Linked DNA regions of Homo sapiens. The protein of the gene in region 3 interacts with the protein of the main gene of each other region in a biochemical or structural test. Each region holds a gene or a part of one and is shown on either strand. Other genes may lie near its edges.

Region 1 (8,372 bases), on a different chromosome or scaffold from region 3:
CTAAATATCTACTAAATACTCTTGTGAATTTTGGTATCTGGTAGCATGCTGTGATGAAAACTATCAGACTGAAAAAACACAAATGCTTTCCTTTTTTAAGGACATGGATTAATTTTGTCTAAAGTAGAAACAAAGTCATTGTGATTAAGTTTAAAGAAAGAGCTCTCTTTGTAGGAGTTAGTGAATCACAATAGCTGGGTTGTGTTGTCCCGCTGAAACTCCCAGGAAAGATCCCAACTAGAAAAGCAAGGTCAATTTATAAAGCTAAGTTTAATTTACATTCTTAGTTCTTAATAGACACTGCAATAATTATCCAAAGATATTAATTCACATGCTATTGGGTATTAGCCATTGGGCAATAATGCCCCAAATTAAGAGACAGGCATCACTCCATCACCAACCACTGAAAACAGATGGGAAAGGAGAAACACAGGAAAAAAAATATATATGTGCATAAAAAACTCTGCGTAAAGTGACAAAATTTACAGGATTAAATTTAATGAATAAAATCCTTTGCTGAAAGGCTTAAAAGAAAAACATAAAAAACGGATCCACCAGCTCAAGAATTATATAACACATTCTATAAATAATTATGTCAAGTTTTCAAATGTTAATTTCAATGGAAAAATAATTTTTTAATAAACTTAAAGTTAAATCTGAAGGAATACTGATGTGACAATCACGCAGAAACATTTGTGGCTATCATTTTATCCTATGTGTACCTTAATGATGATGGGTGAGCAAATTGGGAAACTACAAAGTGTCTTGTGTGGGCTTTGATTTTGTGTAGCCAGCATATGAACTTGTTCATCTAAATGCAGATTAGATAAGCCACCCTCCAGATCAACAATTATGGTGGGTCACACAACAATCACAACCCCTCTTGCTGTAGATCAGGAAAAACAAATCCCCTGGCTTGTATTCTTATTCAAGCATGTACCATACATGTCACACTAGCTTCTGGTAGTGTGATATTTTTGAATTATTTAACAAGCAGCTAGTGTTTATACATTTAGGTAATTTTTAAAGTTCCTTCACAAATTATCTTTTGCTTCTAATTTTGTCTCTAAAATCACAACTAATGACTTTTCATATACGGGTTGTCAGGGATGTACTAGCAACCTGTAGATCTGTTATTAAATAAGATTTAATTGACATAAAATAATAGCAGTCCATAAGACTAAGTGATAAGATACACAGTTGTGTAGTAATGATTTTATATTGGTTATATGACCTTTGCTTCCTTTCAGAGAGAAATTTAAAAAAGGGATTTTTTTGCAAAGACCAAAACGGTTTTATCTGCCATGGTTGAATACCACATTAATAAAAATTAAAAGTATGTACTAAGTAAAATCATCATTTTAGGATAAAATCGTGATAGGCTTCCTTGGGACAATGCTATTACATTATCATACCCCGACAACATGCAATCAACTTAGTCTCTAGTCATCATGGAAAAAACTTTGATCTCACTTCTTCATCTTGATAAATATTCCCAAGAGCTTCTCTTATAGCTATTTGGTCATTGATGAAGATTTTTTTTTTTTAAAGACACACAAGAAAATACAGGCTGGGTTTTTGGTGGGGAGGTGTAGATTTGGTAAGAGGATTGAACTAAACAAACGATTTTAAAATTAAGGTGCTATGTACTTAATGCCACTGAATCGTATACTTAAAATGGTAAATTTTATGTTATGTGTATTGTGTGATACCTAAAAAAATTAATTTAAAAAGTAAAATTGCTCTGTTTAGGATAAAATATTATTGTGTACCAAAGAAATTTTATATAAAAACAAGCAGTCTTTACCCCAGCATACTGTGAAGCTGAAGTACATGTAATTGCCGTTTTTGTAGGTTTAAAATGGTTGACTATCAGCAATTTCATATGGTTCAGCCTGTATCTTTATAAATAAAACGAAGTTTTGTCCCCGTACTGGCGAATTACTCTTTAGTGACTATCAGTGGACGCAAGGGCTGTGAGAAATAACCTTAGCATGATGGCTTTTTATATTAGAGCCACTGCGGTTACAGAATATGTTTTTGGGCATTTATGACAGTCTATGACTTTGAGTGAGGGAAAATTACAATGCAGTGAGATCCATTAACCTAACAGTGGCTGAGCCGATTCTATGGGACATCAAACTTGAAATCAGTCATTATTTAGAAAAAAGAGATTAATTTTAGTTCCTTTCTGCCATTTTCTTACTGCAAAAACACTTTATTCTCCAAAAAACCATTCTGTATATGAAAATTGTGGTACGTTCTAAGATTCTCTTTAAGAAATAGGACCTTTATCAATTTTCTTCCCCCCAGTCTCCAAGTCATAATTAGCAGAAGATCCCCCGCCCTGCCTTTCCATCAGCACTGGGTGACAGAGCTGATGTCCCCTCTCTGAAGCTCCAACTGTAAATGATTATTACATGTCGTAGTCAGGGCCTGATACAAGAAAGAGCAATCATATTAGAATAAGAAAATTAGAGAATGCCCAAATCACTACAGCATTAGCGGAACCAAAGCAGAATTAACATGCATGCCCCTCCAGTTCCTCCTCAGCATTAGCAGAAAACTACACATTCCACGTTCCTGGAATATAACATGCAGGACACAAGACCTAAGTTACGATTAATTATATTAATAAAAAAAGACAGTTTCCCCAATGCATCAGCCCAAGGTGACAAACTATAGACATCCCTCTATGAAATATCACGTCGGTAGAAAGATTTGGAACAGGAATGGATTGAAGAAAGGCTGCTCTATTAACTTAACATCAGCCCACAGGAAAAAAATCAACCCTGAAAGCAAGACCATGCCATAGGGATTGTCTCAGAGCCATTTTAAAAGAGAGACAAAACCCAGCTAACCCTTTTTAAGCACCCCCCAGTGAAAAGCTTTAAACAGGCTATTGTCAGAGCGCTGGGTACCTTTTCTCTCTTGGCTTTGTTCAGTATTTTCCTCGGCTGCAGTTTCCATGGCTGGCTTCATACCATCCACCAAAAATGCTTTTCCCCCTGTTCCCCCCAACACACACTTGTTTTTCCTCCTCTTCCTTTTCTTTTGGACTCCCCTCCGTCTCTTATTTACACCCGTCTGATTGAGAGGCTCTGTTCTTCACTACAGTAGATTACAGTCCCTTCCAAGATGCAAAAGTCTTGTCAGCGTCAATTTCGCTCTGCCTACTGGTCCATAAAGACAGCTGCCAAGGGGCAGGCAGCCATACGTCACCGAGGATCCCAGTTAGAAAACAGCCATTCGGCGCCCGGTGGTGCCTACAGTCTCAATGCGGCTCCAGTGGGAGTTGGGGGTAGGGGGGTGGGGGAGAAGGACCTGCTCCCCACCGGGCTCTTCCTCCTTGCTCTCTTTCTTAAGATCTCAATCTCGATCTCTCTCTCTCTCTCTCTTTCTCCCCACCTCATTTCTTCTAGCCAAGTACACCCAATGAATGCTAATTAATTCTCCCAGGAAAAAATAGATTTGTGACATCAGAGGAGGGGATGTGAAGGAGAAAGAAAAGAGCCCCCTCCCACCACGTGACTTTGTTGGTCGACAGCAATATATGTCGTCTCTAAGGAGAATGCATGTCTTTGCATAGGCATGACACTTTCTTTCCTGTGTGGTCCATTTATGATGTATCAGTTTATTTCATTTACCCCTCGACCCTGGCAAAACATATTCAAAGGACGTGCCCATAGTCTCTATTTACTTTCTTAAATATTTGTCTTTCATACAATTTCTAGATAAGTACATTGCTTTTTAAAAATATAAATTAAAGAGGGGGAGAAAATACATTAGAGGGAAGAAAACTCAAACACGGATTTAACGATAGCAATGTAGCAATTTGTTATTAGAACCCACTCCCTTGTCTATAGTTAATATATATGATAGTAAGAGAAACTCAAGCCTAATTTGTAAAAAGGCACCCTTCCTTATTTAAAAATAAGCATAACATGTTCACAAGTATATCGAGCTGACATTTTGGTAGTTTCTTGGAATGAAAATCAAAATAGTTTTTTAATCGGATATGGTTATTTCTACATGGAGTTTTACTCATTAGAATTCCTCACTCCAAATCGAAGGGGTGTTTTCAAGAGCTCTCTAAATATTCAACATAAAGGCTAGTATACCAATAATGATTTGCCTTCTTGCATACCCAGATACCATGAGGCCAACATTCTCAACCCATACCAACATATAAGCCTTTATCATGATTATGAGCCATGTTTCCAAGCATCACTAATTTCTGCACCATTTTTTATGCATTTGGCTGACCAACTGGCCTTCGCCGTCCCTATAAAAAATTAGAGAGACTCAAGTCAAATACAGGGATGACCACTGATAGGATTCCCAGATCATGAATAGTCTGCTAGTTGGTTGGGCTTAACACTTATCTTGGAAGCAAACATAAAGACAAGTTGGAGACCACCCTCTCCTAAAATCACTCTCCTAAGTTTTGATGGTTTCTTGCTCAACTCCTTGAAAAAAAAGTATAAGGTACTGAATCAAAATCTTCTAAAAACCTGATCTTTTAATACCTTGGTTTTAGATAATCCCTCAAACCTTCTTATATTTAGAACTTCTAGATGTGTTACAGTCGAGAAGATTTTGAAAACCAGTTTAGCTTGTTTCAACGTTTAATTTTACATCTTGCTTTTCCCTTTACCATTGTCTTAGAAGACCACGCCCACAATCAAATATGTATTCCCTCAAATTAAGGCCCCAGCCAATTTTATTGTCTCCTGGTCAGGGGATTGAGAAGTATGGCAGCCTAAAACCACAGACTTTAGAAAAAAGATTCGTTTGTGATATAATTATTTCCATGGGAAAACCCTATGGTGTGTCCGGATAGGACAGTCTTAGACATTTTTTGCAAAGACTACTTAGGTCCATTCAAATATAGAAAGGTGGCAAGTGTTGGTATGTAACAGGCTTGCTTTCCCAGCAGTTCAAATGAGAATTAAAACCAAAACAAAATTCAATTCAGCACAAAAGAGGACACTGTGATTAGCTGTTATTGGTTTTTAAAGTGTCCAGCAAAAACATCTGATTATAGAACCAGCAGATCCTAATAATTTTTTGGCTGTTGCTTAAGAATATTATTTTAATAGTGATGCTGGTGAAAAGGCAGAATATGAAAGACATTCTTAATTTAAGAACAACTCTAGTTCTATATCGAGATCAAAACCATTAGACAAAATATTCACACATCCTCCAGTTGATACCTGCATCTACTTTCCACCTGAAAAACTACATGGAAATGAGCAATTCATCACTTTTGCCTGATTCACAACTTCATCATTTTCTTTTCACTAGGATAATGTATTACAATTCTAGAAATTACCATTATATCACTTTATAACAGCCTCAAGATCTCACTGATGTTTATGATAAACCATTTGAAAAACAATTGTCAAGAGGAAGAGAGAAGAGTATTGCTTATTACATTTCTGAGATATGCATCCATTTTTGGCCAGAAAAGTTCTATATGTAGAAGTAGGATGGAAAATGTCTTCCAGAGCTGAAAATATTTCTTTGAGCCCCATGCTCTAAGGCAGTCTGGTTGAAGGTAAGAACACTTCTGAAAGCCAAAACAGGAATACAAAATACTGAACAAAACAGATTAGAATAAACATATGAAATTGCTGATATTGACCAAGAAGAACAGCAGTTTCACGTGGTTTGACTTATATGTTTGTAAGTCTTCTGTATAATTGCAGCCAGCTCAGTAAACATGCATGAAGTAACCTCCCTAGTGCCAACATCTACAAGCAGCACAGACATGCACAAGTGACGATGCCTGTCTCCAGGTAACCCACGGCTAATGGGACACAGAAAACTCTTCTAAAACAGGGTGCTCCTGCCTGCCACAAGCACTATGGCATCACAACAAAGAAAATGGATGGAGGGGGAAGAGAATTTGAAAAAAGCTTTGCAGAGTTGAGTTGGCTATTGCAGTAATGCTTAGAAACCTGCTGGGTAGGGTAGGGAAGGGAAAAGCAGGAAAGAGGAACGGAAAGAGTTCTAGGAAAAACTGAAGGGCATATGAGAGGAAAAAGAGGGTACTGTCAAAGGGTCAGGAAGTGATTTTTCTGACAGAGGGACTGAAGGGAGATGGCTGAGCCAGTAGGTTGGGAACCAGGTAGGTTGAACACCTTGCTAGCCCTAGAGGCAGTAGGTAGAGATAGAAGGCTCAAGAGCAGAGCTGATCGTGCTTTACAAAGGTCATTCTATTGGTAACGTGGAAGACAGGGTGGGTGGAGTATGAGACTAGAGGCTGGCAAACTAGTCAGGAGTCTCCTGCAACAGTACCAGTAAGAGATAGTGTGAACCTGAACTATGGCACGGGGAGGAAGTGAGGACCCAGATGTCATTGGATTGGATCTGTATGAGTAGGGGTGGAGGAGGATTTGAAGGGGAGGCTAGAGTTTCTAGCTTGGGTGAGTGAGGAGATGGTCATGCTGGGAACCAATATGGGGAACCAAAGAGAAGGAAGAAGTTTGGTAGGGGAGATTATCAAGCGTGGTTGAAGGTGCTCTTAGGACATCCTGCAGGGACTAAGAGGCATTCAGGAATATGGCTCCAGAAGAGAGGAGCTGGCCAGAGAGCAGCATCCGGGAGTCTTCAGTGTGGAGGCAGCCCTGGGAGTACAAGAAGCCCAGTTCTGCTCAAATGCCATCTTCTCAGGGGACTCTCCCTGACTCTTGTCTAAAATAGCAGCCCTGACATTCCTGGTCCCCTTAATCTGGATTTGAGTTTCATCATAGCTTTAACCACGACTCAACACTGTTATTCACTTATTTGTTCATCACTTCCCATCCTCCTAGAATACAGGCTCCTTAAAGGCAGAAATTGTTGTCTTATTCTCCACTGTATTCTAAGAGCTCTTGGAACACTTCTGGGCACATAGCGGGTTCTCAACAAAATCTATTTTAAATCAATGTTAAACAACCAGGGAGAGATACAGATTTCAAGTATGCCAAGATTAGAGCTTAGGGTACACTACCTTTTAAATGTAAAGGTAAAGGAAAAACTTTAAAAAGAGGGTAAAAGAAACAAAGAAGGACAAATTAGAAAACGAGGGAAATAAGACCAAAGTGGAATCATGAAATTCGAGAAAGGTTCTGTGAAGGGCATCAAGTTAACAGTGTAGAATAGTGTCAAATACCATAAAAGGAGGAAAAAGGATGAGGACTAGCAAGCAGAAAGGAGTTTTACCACCAAATAGCCTTTGGAACTTCTGTGAGAAGGCTGAATGATGGGGAAGGATATAACACTTCCCAGTCTCTTTCACGATCACCCTCAAAATAGGAGGCTCCCAAGGTCCAGTTGACATGTTAAACTCATACATAGGGCTTTGGCTGATGCCTGTACATCTTGGCCCTGTTTTTAACCTGGCAAGATCATATTGGATTTTTCTTCTGTGATCTATTACATTAATGATCTTCCCAGATTTGTTCTGTTTCCAAGTATAGTAAATATGCTTTGTGTGTCTGGGATTCAAATCATTGATAGAAATGTTGAACACAACAAGACCAAGGTGAGGGAATCCCATGTAGACCTCTATGGACATCGTCCTGGTCAGTTGGCTGGTTCATTCTTTCATTTCTTTGTTCATTCATTCGTTTATTCATCCAAGATTCATTAAGCACTTATTAAAGGCCAGAAATCAAATCACTTTTTTTTTCTTTTTCTTTTTTGAGACGGAGTTTTGCTCTTGTTGCCTAGGCTGGAGTGCAATGGCGTGATCTCGGCTCACTGCAACCTCCGCCTCCCGGGTTCAAGTGATTCTCCTGCCTCAGCCTCCCAAGTAGCTGGGATTACAGGCATGCACCACCACCCTGGCTAATTTTGTACTTTTAGTAGAGACGGCGTTTCTCCACGTTGGTCAGGCTGGTCTTGAGCTCCTGACCTCAGGTGATCTGCCTGCCTCAGCCTCCCAAAGTGCTGGGATTACAGGCATGAGCCATCGTGCCTGACCCGAATCACTATTCTATGCTAATATGACTATGACTGTTCAGCTGACCGAGAATTCATCAAGTTGCATAATGATATACTGACACATCCTTATCCTAGTCACATAGCTAGCAAAGACTTTGTCAAATGCCTCCTTCCAACTTTCTAGGATGATATTTTAGGTTTCTTCTGGCTTTTGAAGGACTCCTCAGGGGGCAGTCATTAATCAGAAGGAGGGATGTTTCCACATTCTTTCTAACTACTAATACCTCTGCAATTTTGGTGTTTCATGGAACATTTAAGCAACAAGAAACACCCTGGCATAATCCTTCCTTATTGCCCCTCAAAGGAAATCAATACCCAGAACAAGCTCTACACCTCCCTCAACAAATTTTATTTCTTTTTCTCTTCAAGCCCCATTACAC
Region 2 (7,794 bases), on a different chromosome or scaffold from region 3:
CGGATCACCTGAGGCCAGGAGTTCAAGACCAGCTTGCCCAACATGGTGAAACCCCATCTCTACTAAAAATATAAAAATTAGCTAGGTGTGGTGGCAGGCGCCTGTAATCCCAGCTACTCAGGAGGCTGAGGCACGAGAATAGCTTGAGCCCAGAAGGCGGAGGCTGCAGTGAGTGGAGATCATGCCACTGCACTTCAGCCTGGGTGACAGAGCGTGACTCTGTCTTAAAAAAAAAAAAAAAAAAAAAAAAAAAAGAACTGGCTCTGCAGAGGCTTCCAGTGGAGGTGAGGCTGGGCCTGAAGTTTGGGAGCATCTGGTTTAATAATTAGGGGTGTGGGGTGAGGTGTGGAACCCAAGCGGTGTCTCCACAGGCAGGAACAGCCCTGAATTTGGCCACCCTCAGGGCTGTTCCTCATGGAGCCCAGGCATGGCTGTGAAGCTGGACCTGAGCCCTGCATCTGTTACTAGGAAGGGGAGGGTGTGGAGGAGCTCTTCTTGGGGCAGGGCAGGGTGAAGACAACTGTTCCAGGCCAGCAGGGGCACAGTAAAGAGGATGGCAGAGCCCCATGCAGAGATCAGATGGGAAAGGGAGACAAGGTTGTGTTCTGAGGACATTCTTGGATTTTATGAAAAGACTTTAAAAAACCCCCGAAACCCAGAAACATTTTCTTGAATTTTCACCTCAGCTCATCATATCTCTGCTCTTAGCAAGTGTGCCCGATTTAATAAAATCAGTACTGGCAGCCAGCAGCATGTTTTTGTTCTAGAAACTTAGACTACTTTTTTTTTTTTTTTTTTTTTTGAGATGGAGTTTTGCTCTTGTTGCCCAGGCTGGAGAGCAATGGCACAATCTGGGCTCACTGCAACCTCTGCCTCCCGGGTTCAAGTGATTCTCCTGCCTCAGTCTCCGGAGTAGCTGGGATTACAGGCATGCGCCACCACACCTGGCTAATTTTATATTTTTAGTAGAGACGGGGTTTCTCCATGTTGGTCAGGCTGGTCTTGAGCTCCCGACCTCAGGTGATCCACCCGCCTCAGCCTCCCAAAGTGCTGGGATTACAGGCATGAGCTACTGCACCCGGCTACCTTAGACTGTCTTTTACAAAATAAGAGGAATGGCCAGGCATGGTGGCTCACGCCTGTAATCCCAGCACTTCGGGAGGCCGAGACAGGCAGATCACGAGGTCAAGAGATTGAGACCATCCTGGCCAACATGGTGAAACCCTGTCTCTACTAAAAATACAAAAATTAGCCGGGTATGGTGGCGGCCGCCTGTAGTCCCAGCTACTCAGGAGGCTGAGGCAGGAGAATCGCTTCAACCCAGGAGGCGAAGGTTGCAGTGAGCCAAGATTGCGCCACTGCACTCCAGCCTGGGTGACAGAGCAAGACTCTGTCTCGAAAAAATAAAAAAATATAAAAAAAGAGGAATAAATGAATAATAAGTAAAACAGTACAGAAAGGTTATAAAGTCAATAGTAAGTCTCTACCCTCACCACCCCATTCACTTGCCCCTCAGCACCCCACCCCTCAAAAAAAAAAAAAAACCCACTCCCTAGAGGTAAATACTATGAACCATTTTGAATCTGTATAGGGCACCAACAGGAGCCTGTGTGGTGTGTACTCTCAAGCTTCTGGGTAAAGCTTGCTCTGGGTCTCTTCTGGGCTGAACCTTTTCCAGGAAGGGGGAAGGGAGAAGGGACCGCAGCTGTGGTGTGGCAGAGGCAGGCACAGGACCCTTCCAGAGAGGCTTCTCAGGGTCCCGGGAGGGTGATCAGCTGCCCTGCTTCAGTCAGGCGTCACCGGCTCGCCTGCCGGCCCCTGGCCCGGATTTTCTCCACTGTGTCTAAGGGCTTTTTTTCACCTTCTCAGGATCCCTCTGTGACCCAGCTGACCAACGCCCCGCAGGGCGGCCTGGCGGAATTCAACCCCTTCTCAGAGGTTGGTGAGCAGGCCCTCTTTCCAAGTCCCATGGCCCTCTAGGGTGGTGCTGGGGTGTCCGGGGCAGGGATCCTTGGCAAGGACAGAAGCAGCTCTGAGAAGCGGCAGTCCTCAAAGGGACAGTCCTAACATGAACCCGGGAGGCAGGGTAAGGATGGCAAAGCCACCAAACGCTCTGTAAAATTCTCCCCTTGGGATCTGTGACCGGGGCCCCTCCCCAAGGAGGTCAGGGCAGTGCCCAAGTGTGCTGGACCCAGCGAGCCCAGGGGTGCCGGGTTAGGGATCAGATGGCCTGAACCTGAGGCTTGTTGGCTGGGAAGCCACAGGGGAAGGCCCAGTGCAGGCCCCGAGGGAGTCCCCTCACAGGCAGGGGCACATCACTCATCCTGCTGTGGGTTTGCCCCCTCGTCACCAGCTAATGGAGTCCCACTCAATTCTGTCTTTTGATTTGTTCCATGTAGACAAATGCAGCGACAACAGTTCCTGTCACCCAACTCCCTGGGTCCTCACAGCCAGCGGTTCTCCAGCCATCAGTGGAACCAACCCAGCCGACCCCCCAGGTAGTGCTGACAAAGAACTCTGGCCTTTTCTCTCCAGTGAGGGAATCATCCAGACCAGTAGCTGAGCCCTGAGGCTGGGGGCAAGCAGAGAGCTTTCAGCCTTGGCCCCCTAAGGGCCCTCTTGCTAATTTGTTCGGAGCTGGTCACCTACAAGTAGAGGGGCTGCTCTGCCAATTAATATCCTTACTCCCTCCATCCCACCCACCACCACCACTGAGAAATAAGCTCTACTCACCAGGCCGGGCTCCTCGGTGCCTCCAGAGAGGGCATTTGTCCCTGTTGTACCCCTCCAGGTCCTCCTCGGGCCTTTGGCTTGTTCTCTCTTCCTTGGGGCCCAGAATCTCTCTCTTTTTTTTAACTTCATTAATTCTCACCTTCCTTCCTGTCTTCCTTTGTCCCTTCACCAAATACTGTGAATCTTGCCTGCTTTGTGCCTGGTGCTCCACTGCGCCGCCTCACTGCCCTCCCGCTGCACCCCTCGCTGCCCCTATGAGCGTGACCCATGGTGGAGTTGTGTGTTGCAGCTCCTGCTTAGACAGGCCAGCAAGTTCCCGCCTGCCCAATTCCTGGCAGTGAGCGAGCTCTCAGAGAGGCAGATGCTCCTAGGAGGAGAAAGTATTCTCAGAGACAGCTACATGCGAAAGCTTCCGAAGGTAGGCCTAATGTAGATGAGCAGGAGGAAGGGCAGGGCACCCGGAGCCTGCCCCACACCCCTCCCAGGCCCCAGAGCCCTGTGGAGGTGAGGCAGGCCTTACATGCGGAGTTGCCTTTCTGTGCAGCTGGGTGGTGGGCTGTAGGGAGCTGGGTCCTTCTCAGCTGGCGTCACAGACTTGGAGGAGGTCAAGACCCCCAGCGTGGCACAGCGGGGTCAGTTCTGCTCCTGCTTCCGCCCCCAGTGCCTGAAACTTGGCTCTCCACGTCAGCCTTAGGTCTTTGAAGAGCTTTTGGAGAGGTTGGTGTGTGTATACATGTGTGTGTGTACACATGTGCCTGGTTTGTCATCCTGTGAAATGACCAGTTTGAGATCTCTCCCTAAAAAGGACTGTAGTCTCATCCTTCAGGAGGAACCTGGCCCAAATGGCAGCAGCTGCCAGCAGGTGCAGGGCCCCGGGGCCAGGTCTGTTCAGCCTCACATACAGTCAGTCCCTTACTGTTACTCAGAGGCTCTACCCCGCCTGGAGAGGAGATAAGTGTGGACTCTGCATGCCACTAAAGCCAGGCAGGGCAGGGCCACACCTAAGGGGCTGTCCTGGGGTGTAGCCAATTGCAGTTTAGGGGGACCTCAGGAGGCAGCTCCTGGGGGCAGGCCATGGGGCAGGGTGCTTGTACAGATCCTGAGGCTCAGGCACACGCCATCTGCCTTCACGTGTCTCCCCTTTCCACTCACTGTTAGCAGGCTTGCACTGTTTTCCTTCTCACACATCCACCAGGCTCTTCAAATGAGGCTTGGGTCTGTGGGTTTCTTATTATAGTTTAGTTTCTTGTGAGGTCTTTTTCCCAAAGGTCACAATCACTGAGCGCTGCCTTGACCCAGTATGGGGAAGAGGTGGAGAAGCCAATGGGGGTAGTTTTCCCAACTCAAGCTTAGGGATGAGGGGAGAGGACAGCTTAGTCATGGCCAAGGGGTCAGGAAGGTGTGGGGGCAGTGGAAGACAGGTTGGCCTCTCTAAGGTGGTCTCTGGTACCTAAGACACTCTGTGGGGCGGGGACTGCTTCTGGGACTCCTTGATGGCTGTCCCTGCCTGGGGCAAGGCCTCTCTGCCTGCCTACCCAGGCTGACACTGTTTCTGTTTGTTGTGTCTGGCTGTCCCTGTACCTCCCCTGTTCTCTCCAGGCCGTGGTGTCTGCAGCCCAGGCAGGCCTGCTCCGGCAGCAGGAAGAACTGGACAGGAAAGCTGCCGAGCTGGAACGCAAGGAGCGGGAGCTGCAGAACACTGTAGCCAACTTGCATGGTAAGGGAGGCTGCTGGGGCCTGGGGCTGCCCTGCCTGGCATAGAAGAGTGTCCTGAAACCTGTGCGGAGGGCCTCCCAGCATTCACCCTGAGCTGCCTTAGAGTTTTGTGGGGCTCTTCTCATCACAGGATGCTGGTCCTGGGAAGAGCAGTAAGTTGCAAGTCAGGAGACCTGCAGTGTAGTTGTAATGGCTGTAGATTACTTCTGCACTCCTTCCTAGCTCTCAAATTCCTTGATTCTTTGATAGCATAGGGGCTTTGGTCCCACAATTCCTTGCTAATGATGATGAACTGAGTTCTCACACTTATGGGCTGCTTGTTAATAAAAATAATCACTTAGGCCATTTAGCTGTCTGTATTTCCCAGTGCATTTGGGGTCTTTTATCTCCATGTGAGCTTGTTGGTATCTCTTTGGGTTCCATTATCCTGTTCTGTCCCACTCCATGCTCCATGCAGACTCCAAGCCCCGCTTGCTGGAGCCCCTCTGGGAACCCTGGTTTGGCCCATACACTATGCTGGCGTGCATGCACCTTGATGCCCCTTCTGAGGCTGGGCCCTTACCTCGTCACTCTTTTTGCCCTACCCAGTGAGACAGAACAACTGGCCCCCTCTGCCCTCGTGGTGCCCTGTGAAGCCCTGCTTCTATCAGGATTTCTCCACAGAGATCCCTGCCGACTACCAGCGGATATGCAAGATGCTCTACTATCTGTGGATGTGTGAGTCCCACTCCTGCCTTCCAAGCGCAAGGGCGAATTGGGTGTGACTTGAGAGCCCCATCTTGGTCCTGGCTGCTCCTCCCTGGTATACAGGCTTTCAGCAGACTCCAGCCTTCCTCAGTGCCTGGGCTGGGTTGGGGAGATGCCTCTGCCCACAGGCTGCCCCCTGTCTGGAAACCTCCTTGAAAGGGGCAGTCCAGACCACCGATCAGGGAGGGTGGGACTAACTAGAGGCTTCCAAGTTCCTTCAGAGCTCACTGCACTAAAAGGCCCTCCTTAGGTGAAGGCCTTCCCTGCCCACAGGCCTGTGAACTCTGAGGGGTGAGGAAGGAGACTCCCCCTGCAGCTCCATCAGGGGCCATCCAGGGCCAGGGAAAAGCATTGCTAAGAGAAAGACTTCCTTCCCCAAGGACCAGCCCTGGGTCTGCATCCTCCCTCCACACCCCTCAGATACCCGGGCTGTCCCATCACCTCTCAGGAACGTAGTTTGATCCCTGGTTTTGAGGTCCCAGAAAACCAGGATATGGGAACTATCCCTGCCTAGGTACAGAGCGGGCTCCTCTGTTTCAGCAGCTGCCTTCGCAGCATGAACCTCACCTCTCCTAGGGAGTGGCTGCCACATTGGAGCCCCTCAGCCACTGTGGCACAAGTCATAACTCTGTCCTGTCCCCTTCCCCAGTGCATTCAGTGACTCTGTTTCTGAACCTGCTTGCCTGCCTGGCCTGGTTCTCGGGCAACAGCTCCAAGGGAGTGGACTTTGGCCTCTCCATCCTGTGGTTTCTGATCTTCACTCCCTGTGCCTTCCTTTGTTGGTACCGACCCATCTATAAGGCCTTTAGGTGAGTGAGGCCGGGGCAAGGGGTGAGACTTTATGGCTGGCATCCCAGGTAGCAGGCTAAGGGCTATAGGCCCTGGGACCCCATCTGAGTCTTAGAGCAGAATAGAATGTAGGGAAATCCACTTTCCCTACATTCTGTTCCTCTGTTCCCACCCAGAGCAGAGATTGGGGGCCCCGTTCCTCAGTTTCTGTACCTGAGGTCTGCTCTGGGCCCTGTCCTTGGACCAGGCACAGGAGACCTAGAGAAGGGACCTCCCATCCCACTGCTCCCAGTCTGGCTGATGCCGTTACTGGGAAGAGGGAGGGGACGCTCTTTGGGAACTCCCTTCTGAGGCTCTAAGGTGTGCTTCTCTGGTAGTATCAGATGAGTGCTCTCCAGGGCTCTTTCTCCATGACTATTGATGCTTCCCAATAAAGACTGCCAACACCTAAGCTAGATACTGGGAACATAGCTGGATACACCTTACAGACCCCCAGGGGTTCTGGAATTGTACCTCAGGGTTTATGCTTTCAGGGCTGGGAGCCCAGCAGGCCCTGGGAAGAGGGATTAGGGTAGTGGCTGAACCATCCCTGTACCACTGGAGGCCCTGAACCCTCACTGTGATCTAGCCCTCAAGGACACAGAGATGGAAGTCCTCAGCTCGTGAGAGAGTTTTGTCTGGTGTCCCCTGTTTCCCAAATATTTTTTTCTTCCAGTCAGATGTACAGGTTTTGTTTTTTTCTCATTGTTCTTTGTTACCACGTATCCTCAAGTTCTATTGTTTTTGTTTTGAGAGGGAGTCTCGCTCTGTCACCCAGGCTGGAGTGCAATGATGCGATCTCGGCTCACTGCAACCTCCTCCTCCTGGGTTCAAATGATTCTCCTGCCTCAGCCTCCGGAGTAGCTGGGCTTACAGGCACACACAATCACACCTGGCTAATTTTTGTATTTTTAGTAGCGATGGGGTTTCCCCATGTTGGCCAGGCTGGTCTTGAACTTGTGACCTCAAGTGATCCACCTGTCTCGGCCTCCCAAAGTGCTGGGATTACGAGTGTGAACCACCGTGCCCAGCCTGTTTTGTTTTTTTGAGACAGAATCTCAGTCTGTTACCCAGGCTGGAGTGCAATGGCGCAGTCTCGGCTCACTGCAACCTCCGCCTCCCAGGTTCAAGTGAGTCTCCTGTCTCAGCCTCCCAAGTAGCTGGGATTACAGGCGCACACCACCACGCCCAGCTAATTTTTGTGTTTTTAGTAGAGACAGGGTTTTGCCATGTTGGCTAGGCTGGTCTCAAATTCTTGGCCTCATACAGTTTTATTATTAAGAGATTTACTTAGTTTTACTTATTATTAGAGATTTTACTTATTATATAGAGATTTACTTATTATTAAGAGATTGGCTTAGTTTTTCTTGCCTGTTATGAAACGCAAGTACTCCAGGAGATGGAGTGTTAGGTTCTTTGTTTTTTATTTACTTATTTTTCTGAGACAGAGTCTTACTCTGTCACCCAGGCTGGAGTGCAGTGGCGTGATCTTGGCTCACTGCAGGAGTGTTAGGCTCTTTATATTGTCCTTTGGGGGAGCAACTTTATCAGCTCTTTGAGGAAGGGGTCAAGCACTGACCCCTTAAATTGGAAGGCAGTGAAAGGCAAGCTCTTCTTGATTATGGTGGGGGGTGTGTGCGTGTCCTTACGGGTGGTATGGCTGGGCCCCTGGAGCTCTGTCTCTTGCCCATGCTGCCTCCTGGCTCCTAGTGAGGAGGGATGTCACACCAAGTAAGGATGCTGAGGAACACAGCCCAAGCCCTCTTGTGA
Region 3 (7,794 bases):
CACCTAGGGAGCTTGAACACAATTTTTGTGTTGTGCCCATGCTTGGAGATTCCGCTTCAGGAGGTCTGGGGTAGACCCAGGAATCTAGGTGACTATGATGTGTGGCTACATTTGGGAAACTCAGCTCTCCTCAACTGTGTTCTTTTATAGGGAGGAAATTGGGGCTCAGAGAGGGGAAGTGGCCCAGCGTTCTCCAGGTAGTCATAAGTGGATGTGATCCTGCCTGTTCTGTCGACTCCCAAACCAGGCTTTCTTCCCAATTGCTCTCTTGGCCTCCTCTGAAACCTCATTTTAGTCATGGTGCTCCCCCTACGACTGCTTCTAGCAAAGCACTGAGACCAGAGGAGCACAGCATGAGGCCACTCAGCCCAGGGTGGCTCCTGACACTCACATCATCCGGCGACTGTGATTCTCAGTCACAGATTGGTTGGGCTATCCTGGGACAGACGTGGGCAGGGAGTGAAATTGTCTTTCATCTGCCTCAGGGGCATTCCTCCTCCCCTACACCATCATGGCCATTTTTGGGGGAATCCCGCTCTTTTACATGGAGCTCGCACTGGGACAGTACCACCGAAATGGATGCATTTCAATATGGAGGAAAATCTGCCCGATTTTCAAAGGTAACTGAAGGGCTCGGTGGGGTGGGTAAGTGGAGCCTCTCAGGAAGGGATTTCCATCAGTGGGTGGGAGCTGGGGACCTTCTTCTGGAATCAGTCAGGCCTTAGGCATCCCTGGGAGACTGCTTGAGTAATTAAGGTTTTGACTGCGTAAGTGGTGTGAAATTGTCAAAGAGAAACAGAATAAACGGCAATGAGAAGTAAACTAATGTAAACATTTTAAAGCATTAACAGGACATGTACACATTTTCTAAAACATGTTACCTTGCAAATACATATGAGTGACTAACGGCAGGGCCACTTTTCCCACGGTGGCCTGGAGTCCTTGGAATGGAATGGAGGGCAGCACCCACGTGTACCCCTCTGCTGGGCTGCGGGGCTCTCCAGTGCCCCGTTTCAGCCTTTTGCCGTTGGGCCACCCTTAAACTCGGCCTCTGTCTCTCCATCTCACCCACTGCCCAGGGATTGGTTATGCCATCTGCATCATTGCCTTTTACATTGCTTCCTACTACAACACCATCATGGCCTGGGCGCTATACTACCTCATCTCCTCCTTCACGGACCAGCTGCCCTGGACCAGCTGCAAGAACTCCTGGAACACTGGCAACTGCACCAATTACTTCTCCGAGGACAACATCACCTGGACCCTCCATTCCACGTCCCCTGCTGAAGAATTTTACACGTAAGTGCACGTAAGTGAGGGGTTGGCCTGTTAGGGGCAGGCCACACCCCTGGGGTTTGGCTTCTTAAAAAGAAGGCCAGGGCCAAGGGCTCCTCACCCCTTTCTGAGAGATGAAGCTATCAGGGGTGGGAGTAGCAGAATTTGGAGCTGGGAAACTCTACCTCAAGTGCTCCACGGCCTGGCCCTGCTGTGCCTCCTTGCACTTTCTCATGCGCCAAGTCAGTTTGCTCCAATGCGCCCAAGCCCGTCCCTCCCTTCACATTCCAAAATTACTCCCCTTCTTCCGGGGTCCTCCTCTCAGCCAAATGTCATGGAGGCGAAGCATCCTAGTACTTTGATAGTTCAAAACTATTCAAATGGTTTAATGTGTCAACTTCGTAAGTGGGATCTACCCTTTGGAAGAAGATGCTTGAGGAAGGTAGTTTTCTTTAATGCTGGAATTTCAGGCAATGGCAGCCCAAAGAGAGAGCTACTTTGGGGTAGGGAAGGGAGCCAACTCCCCACACTTACACATCCCTCATGTTCCCAAAAGCCAGTCACATTGGTCAAAGGAGTTCAGGTCCCATCCAGCAAAGGAGAATCCAGGAAGTCTGCCTTTAGGTTGAACACTCTTCCCAGGGTGTTGGCCAAATGTGCTTTGTGGTCCTTCAGGACAGGCAGGGCCAATCCCAGCTCTTCCTGGGCCTCAGTGACCACTTGGTCCTAGCAGCACCGTGTCCATTTGTCCCGGGCACCCTCAAAGGAGCAGCACAGATGTGTGCCCAGGTCACTCTACAGAGCCTCTCAGGGGCCTTTCTTTCTCCTTCACCCCAGGCGCCACGTCCTGCAGATCCACCGGTCTAAGGGGCTCCAGGACCTGGGGGGCATCAGCTGGCAGCTGGCCCTCTGCATCATGCTGATCTTCACTGTTATCTACTTCAGCATCTGGAAAGGCGTCAAGACCTCTGGCAAGGTGAGGAAGGCTCTGGCTGCTGACCCAGGCCTGCCCAGGGGCCCACAGGCTCTCAAACTCAAAACCCAGTAGCCTGGACAGACAGCACTGTTTCCTTCCACACCAAACACATTCCATGATGCACCCTCTCTCTCTTCACCGCATTTGTTAGAAAATTCTAGAAGTGGGTTGGGCATGGTGGCTCACGTCTCTAATCCCAGCACTTTGGGAGGCTGAGGTGGGTGGATCATTTGAGGCCAGGAGTTCAAGACCAGCCTGGCCAACACATCGAAACCTCATCTCTACTTAAACAAACAAACAAACAAACAAACAAACAAACAAAAAAAAACAATAGCCAGGTGTGGTGGCAGGTGCCTGTAATCCCAGCTACTCGGGAGGCTGAGGCAAGAGAATCACTTGAACCTGGGAGGTGGAGATTTCTGTGAGCCAAGATCATGCCATTACACTCCTGGGCAGCAGAGTGAAATTCTGTCTCACTAAAAAAAAAAAGGAAAAGAAAAAAGAATATTTTCTAGAAATGGGCCAATGCCAAGAACCATTACATGATTTTTTTTTTTCAAGATTCCTTCAACCCACTGGTAGTACCACAATTAATAATCGTGGCAATGACTTACTGGAAACCCATCATGGACCATGTTCAGTGCTTTTTATACACTGGCCAGTGCTATTGTTTCCTGCTAGATACTCCCTCAACCTTACAGATGCATAGTGGGCTCAGAGGTAGTTCTCCTGGCCAACCTGAATCCGATCCCTGTGTGACTCCAAGGGTTGTGATCTTTCTGCCACACCACCTCGCCCTCCTTTCTCAAGGTCTTCAAGAATAAAAGACACTGACATCCATTCACCCACCTCCCTCCCCTCCCCTCCCCTCCCCCGCTCCCTTCTCCTTCTCCCCTCCCCTCCCCTCCCCTCCCTGGAACAGCATGGTGATAACCCTTCTTCCTTACAGGTGGTGTGGGTGACAGCCACCTTCCCTTATATCATCCTTTCTGTCCTGCTGGTGAGGGGTGCCACCCTCCCTGGAGCCTGGAGGGGTGTTCTCTTCTACTTGAAACCCAATTGGCAGAAACTCCTGGAGACAGGGGTAAGATGATGAGGGAAATATGTGTACCTGTCTGTCATTTTACTAAACGAAGCTGGTCCTCCTCCAAATAGGACAGTAGGGACAACTGAAATGTGGCTTCAGTGTGCAAGTCTGCAATGATACTTTAACCAAGAAATACAAGCATTAAAGTACAGTTGAGGCCACTGGATGGGTTTATGCCTGAATCATAGGAAGAGAAATCACATTTGTTGGCACTTGGTTTATGGCTATGCCTGGAATGAGCCTTAAAAGCTGTTTTTCTGCCTCTGCACTTAGCCACATGGAGGCAGGAGTGGCGACCCTGTTGGTGCCAGGGTAAGCCTGTGTCTCCCCCTCACCCCATGCCCTTACCCCTGCTGTGTTCCAGGTGTGGATAGATGCAGCCGCTCAGATCTTCTTCTCTCTTGGTCCGGGCTTTGGGGTCCTGCTGGCTTTTGCTAGCTACAACAAGTTCAACAACAACTGCTACCAGTGAGTATCTGGGGTCCCCAAGCAAAGCTTGAAAGTGGCGTGAGTGAAAGTCAGCTAGTGTGGAGGAAGGTGATTGGACCGACGGCCTCGAATCTGGCCAGGCTTAGGCCTTGATACCACTGCCCCTCAGGGGTGCTGCAGGCCCCTGACCAGCTCACCCATGGCCAGAGCACTCATCCAGGCCGTGGCTTCACCTGGGCCACTCAGGCTGAGAGGGGCCCCATGCCCTTCGGTTTTGTCAGCGCTCCTGTATATAAAAATAATAAGAGGCTGGACATGGTGGCTCACGCCTGTAATCCCAGCACTTTGGGAGGCCAAGGCAGGTGGATCACCTGAGGTCAGGAGTTCCAGGCTAACCTGGCCAACATGGCGAAACCCTGTCTGTACTAAAAATACAAAGATTAGCCAGGCATGGTGTTGCACACCTGTAAGCACAGCCACTTGGGAGGCTGAGGCACGAGAAGTTGCAGTGAGCTGAGATCTTGCCACTACACTCCAGCCTGAGTGACAGAGCAAGATTCCAGAAAGAAAGAAAGAGAGAGAGAGAAAGAGAGAGAGAGAAATAAAGAAAGAAAGAAAGAAAGAAAAAAGAAAGAAAGAAAGAAAGAAAGGAAGGAAGGAAAGAAAAAGAAAGAAAGAAGAAAGAAGGAAGGAAAGAAAGAAAGAAAGAAAGAGAGAGACGGGGTGCGGTGGCTCCCACCTGTAATCTCAACACTTTGGGAGGCCGAGGCGGGTGGATCACGAGGTCAGGAGATCGATACCATCCTGGCTAACACGGTGAAACCCCATCTCTACTAAAAATACAAACAAATTAGCCGGGCGTGGTGGCGGGCGCCTGTAGTCCCAGCTACTCAGGAGGCTGAGACAGGAGAATGGCGTGAACCCAGGAGGTGGAGTTTGCGGTGAGCCGAGATTGTGCCACTGCACTCCAGCCTGGGCGACAGAGTGAGATTCCATCAAAAAAAAAAAAAAAAAAGAAAGAAAGAAAGAGAAATTGCAAAGCAAGTTTACAAAAAGCTGCAACATACAATTAAGTAGTTAGGTTTAACTAGTCAATGTGTTTAACAATAAAAATTGTAATGTGATTATTTGTATTATGTATAAACAAAAAGTATGATGATCACATTATTTTGACTAACACAAAATACCATAATTTTTCTTTTCTTTTCTTTTTTTTTTTTTTTTTTTGAGACGGAGTTTCGCTCTTGTTGTCCAGGCTGGAGTGCAATGGCGCAATCTCAGCTCACCACAACCTCTGCCTCCCGGGTTCAAGCGATTCTCCTGCCTCAGCCTCCCGAGTAGCTGGGATGACAGGCATGCGCCACCACGACTGGCTAAATTTGTATTTTTAGTAGAGATGGGGTTTCTCCATGTTGGTCAGGCTGGTCTCCAACTCCCGACCTCAGGTGATCCACCTGCCTCAGCCTCCCAAAGTGCTGGGATTACAGGCGTGAGCCACTGTGCCCAGCCAAAATGCCATAATTTTTGCAACAAAATCCTATTTCAGAAATTTTAACAGAACAGGAAATGTTACACCAATTATGGTTTTAAATATCACCCACTGGGCCAGGTGCAGTTGCTCAAACCTGTAATCTTAGCCCTTTGGGAGGCTGAGGCAGGAGGATCACTTGAGCCTAAGAGTTTGAGTCCAGCCTGGGCAACATGGTGAGATCCCATCTCTACAAAAAATTTAAAAATTAGCTGAGTGTGGTGGTGCATGCCTATGGTCCCAGCTCTTCAGGAGGCTGAAGCAGGAGGATTGCTTGAGCCCGGGAGGTTAAGGCTGCAGTGAGCTGTGTTCATGCCACTGCACTTCAGCCTGTGCAACAGAGGGAGACCCTATCTCAAAAATAAATAAATAAATAAATAAATAAATGTCACCCATCATCTTTAGACTTAATTTTAATTGATCACAGATGGCAGCATCCATCAATCTCTTTGTGCTATGCATAAGATAATTGTAAAACTGATTTTTTTAAAGGTGGGAGGGAGATTCACATGTACCCTAAGCAATGTGGCCTTGCACTGGGACACCACCCTGCAGTTGTATGATGAGGCTGTCATTTAAAAGTGTGAGATCAGGAGTTTGAGACCAGCCTGGCCAACATGGGGAAACCCCATCTCTACTAAAAATACAAAAATTAGCCAGGCGTGGTCGTGGGCGCCTGTAATCCCAGCTACTTGGGAGGCGGAAGCAGGAGAATCACCTGAACCCGGGAGGCAGAGGGTACAGTGAGCTGAGATCAAGCCACTGCACTCCAGCCTGGGCAATAGAGCAAGGCTCTGTCTCAAAAAAAAAAAAAAAAAAGAAAAAAAAATGAGGGTATCTCTCTGGCTGGCAGTCTGTGACTTAGTTTGAAGATAAAGCCTAAATCTGAGGATCTCACAAATGTGAGGCTCAGGCCCTGTCCTGGCCCCCACTCCAACCTGGGCCCTGCTCCAGAACAAGGCTGGTTTGAAATGGAGAGGTCTGTGCTAGCAGGATTGCCTTTTAAAGCACCCCTGACTGCTCTTCTCCCTCCACCATGTGTGGTGGTCATGGCAGTCAGAGCTTCAGGCCTCGGCAGCTGGGTTCTGGGAGAAGGCGAAGGGACTCCGGGACAGGCTTGAGGTTCCTTGAGTTCAGCCTGCTTGTCCTTGCTGTGGCCGCCCTGTCTAAGGCAGGGCAGGCACACGGACAGATGCTCCTTAGACCCCTGATCTTGGAACTGTCTCAGGCGGCCCCTTGGGTTTTCCCCTCCAGAGATGCCCTGGTGACCAGCGTGGTGAACTGCATGACGAGCTTCGTTTCGGGATTTGTCATCTTCACAGTGCTCGGTTACATGGCTGAGATGAGGAATGAAGATGTGTCTGAGGTGGCCAAAGACGCAGGTAGGACCTCGGGTTCTATGCAGGTCCCTTGCTCCTACTGAGTTGCTTTGCTTTGAATCTTTGTAAAGATCTAACTTTTGATTTATTTCTAAATGTTCCTGAAATTTTCCAAAGAAGGCTGGGCATGGTGGAGTTCAAGACCAGCCTGGGCAACATAGTGAGACCCTGCCTCTATAAAAAAATAAATGAGCTGGGCATGGTAGTGCACACCTATAGTCCCAGCTACTCAGGAGGCTGAGGTGGGAAGATTGCTTGAGCCTGGGAGGTCAAGGCTACAGTGAGCCATGATCACACCACTGTACTTCAGCCTGGGTGACAGAATAAGACCCTGTTTCCAAAACATTTTTTATTCAAAGATTTGAGAGAAGCTCGATGCCTTAGAGATCTTTCCATGTGTTCAGGCCATGCAGGGACAGGGCAACTCCCTTGGCACCCAGTTCTGGGGCCTCCAAAATCTATGGGCTTGAAATGATGACTCTGATGATGGCTTTAAAACCAGTGGGTTTGCTTCCTGTGATGGTCTTGTGATGGCTCAAAGTCTAGTAAGCAAATATCATTTATCCTTAGAACTGCCCCTTGCAGAAAAAGAAAATCTAGCCAATATGACCACTCTATTTTACCGTGAAGTTTTTGTGGAAAAAGAAAAGAGCAACAGAGGGAGAAAAAACAGATGATGGCATCTAGTGGGCGAGGTCCCAGGGCCTTCTTGTTACAAGCATGTTAGCATGCTTGTATCTTTGGCCTGATTCGGTGCTTTGACCAACCCCATACCCCAAACGAGGGCACCCCTAGCTAACCCATGAGAGGCTGAAGACATGTCCCTCACACTTTCAAAAGGGACTTTAAAATAGAAAGAGGTCTTTATTCCAAAGCCTCTGTGACTCTACGGAAATCAATTTAACATTTCCTACTGTTCTGAAGCTGAAGACATCAGAGGGGGCTAACTGTCATGGACTTTAGAAATATCAATCCTGGTCCTGAGAAATCCCATGGAATTGTTATATGGTGGAAACTCTTATTCTCATGTGCAGCTTTGCCAGTCTCTGGGTCTTGGATCTGTTACCCACCCCCAGGGTTAATGGAGGGCACACAGTTTTCAAGATGGAAGCCCCACCCT

What was found.
Region 1: the proteins of SLC6A4 (region 3) and GPM6B form a complex in vitro, tested with the Homo sapiens proteins (one study listed by BioGRID).
Region 2: the proteins of SLC6A4 (region 3) and SCAMP2 form a complex in vitro, tested with the Homo sapiens proteins (one study listed by BioGRID).

The regions. Positions count from the first base shown.
Region 1 is NC_000023.11:13,813,923-13,822,294, forward strand, and holds the start of GPM6B (neuronal membrane glycoprotein M6-b), read right to left. Parts: upstream 3,172-8,372; 5' UTR 2,983-3,171; coding exon 2,922-2,982; intron 1-2,921. UniProt on the Homo sapiens protein: May be involved in neural development. Involved in regulation of osteoblast function and bone formation. Involved in matrix vesicle release by osteoblasts; this function seems to involve maintenance of the actin cytoskeleton.
Region 2 is NC_000015.10:74,848,725-74,856,518, reverse strand, and holds part of SCAMP2 (secretory carrier-associated membrane protein 2), read left to right. Parts: intron 1-1,869; coding exon 1,870-1,938; intron 1,939-2,399; coding exon 2,400-2,498; intron 2,499-3,022; coding exon of another isoform or gene 3,023-3,151; intron 3,152-4,332; coding exon 4,333-4,450; intron 4,451-5,037; coding exon 5,038-5,166; intron 5,167-5,845; coding exon 5,846-6,005; intron 6,006-7,794. UniProt on the Homo sapiens protein: Functions in post-Golgi recycling pathways. Acts as a recycling carrier to the cell surface.
Region 3 is NC_000017.11:30,211,623-30,219,416, reverse strand, and holds part of SLC6A4 (sodium-dependent serotonin transporter), read left to right. Parts: intron 1-485; coding exon 486-620; intron 621-1,079; coding exon 1,080-1,299; intron 1,300-2,112; coding exon 2,113-2,251; intron 2,252-3,200; coding exon 3,201-3,335; intron 3,336-3,702; coding exon 3,703-3,806; intron 3,807-6,549; coding exon 6,550-6,677; intron 6,678-7,794.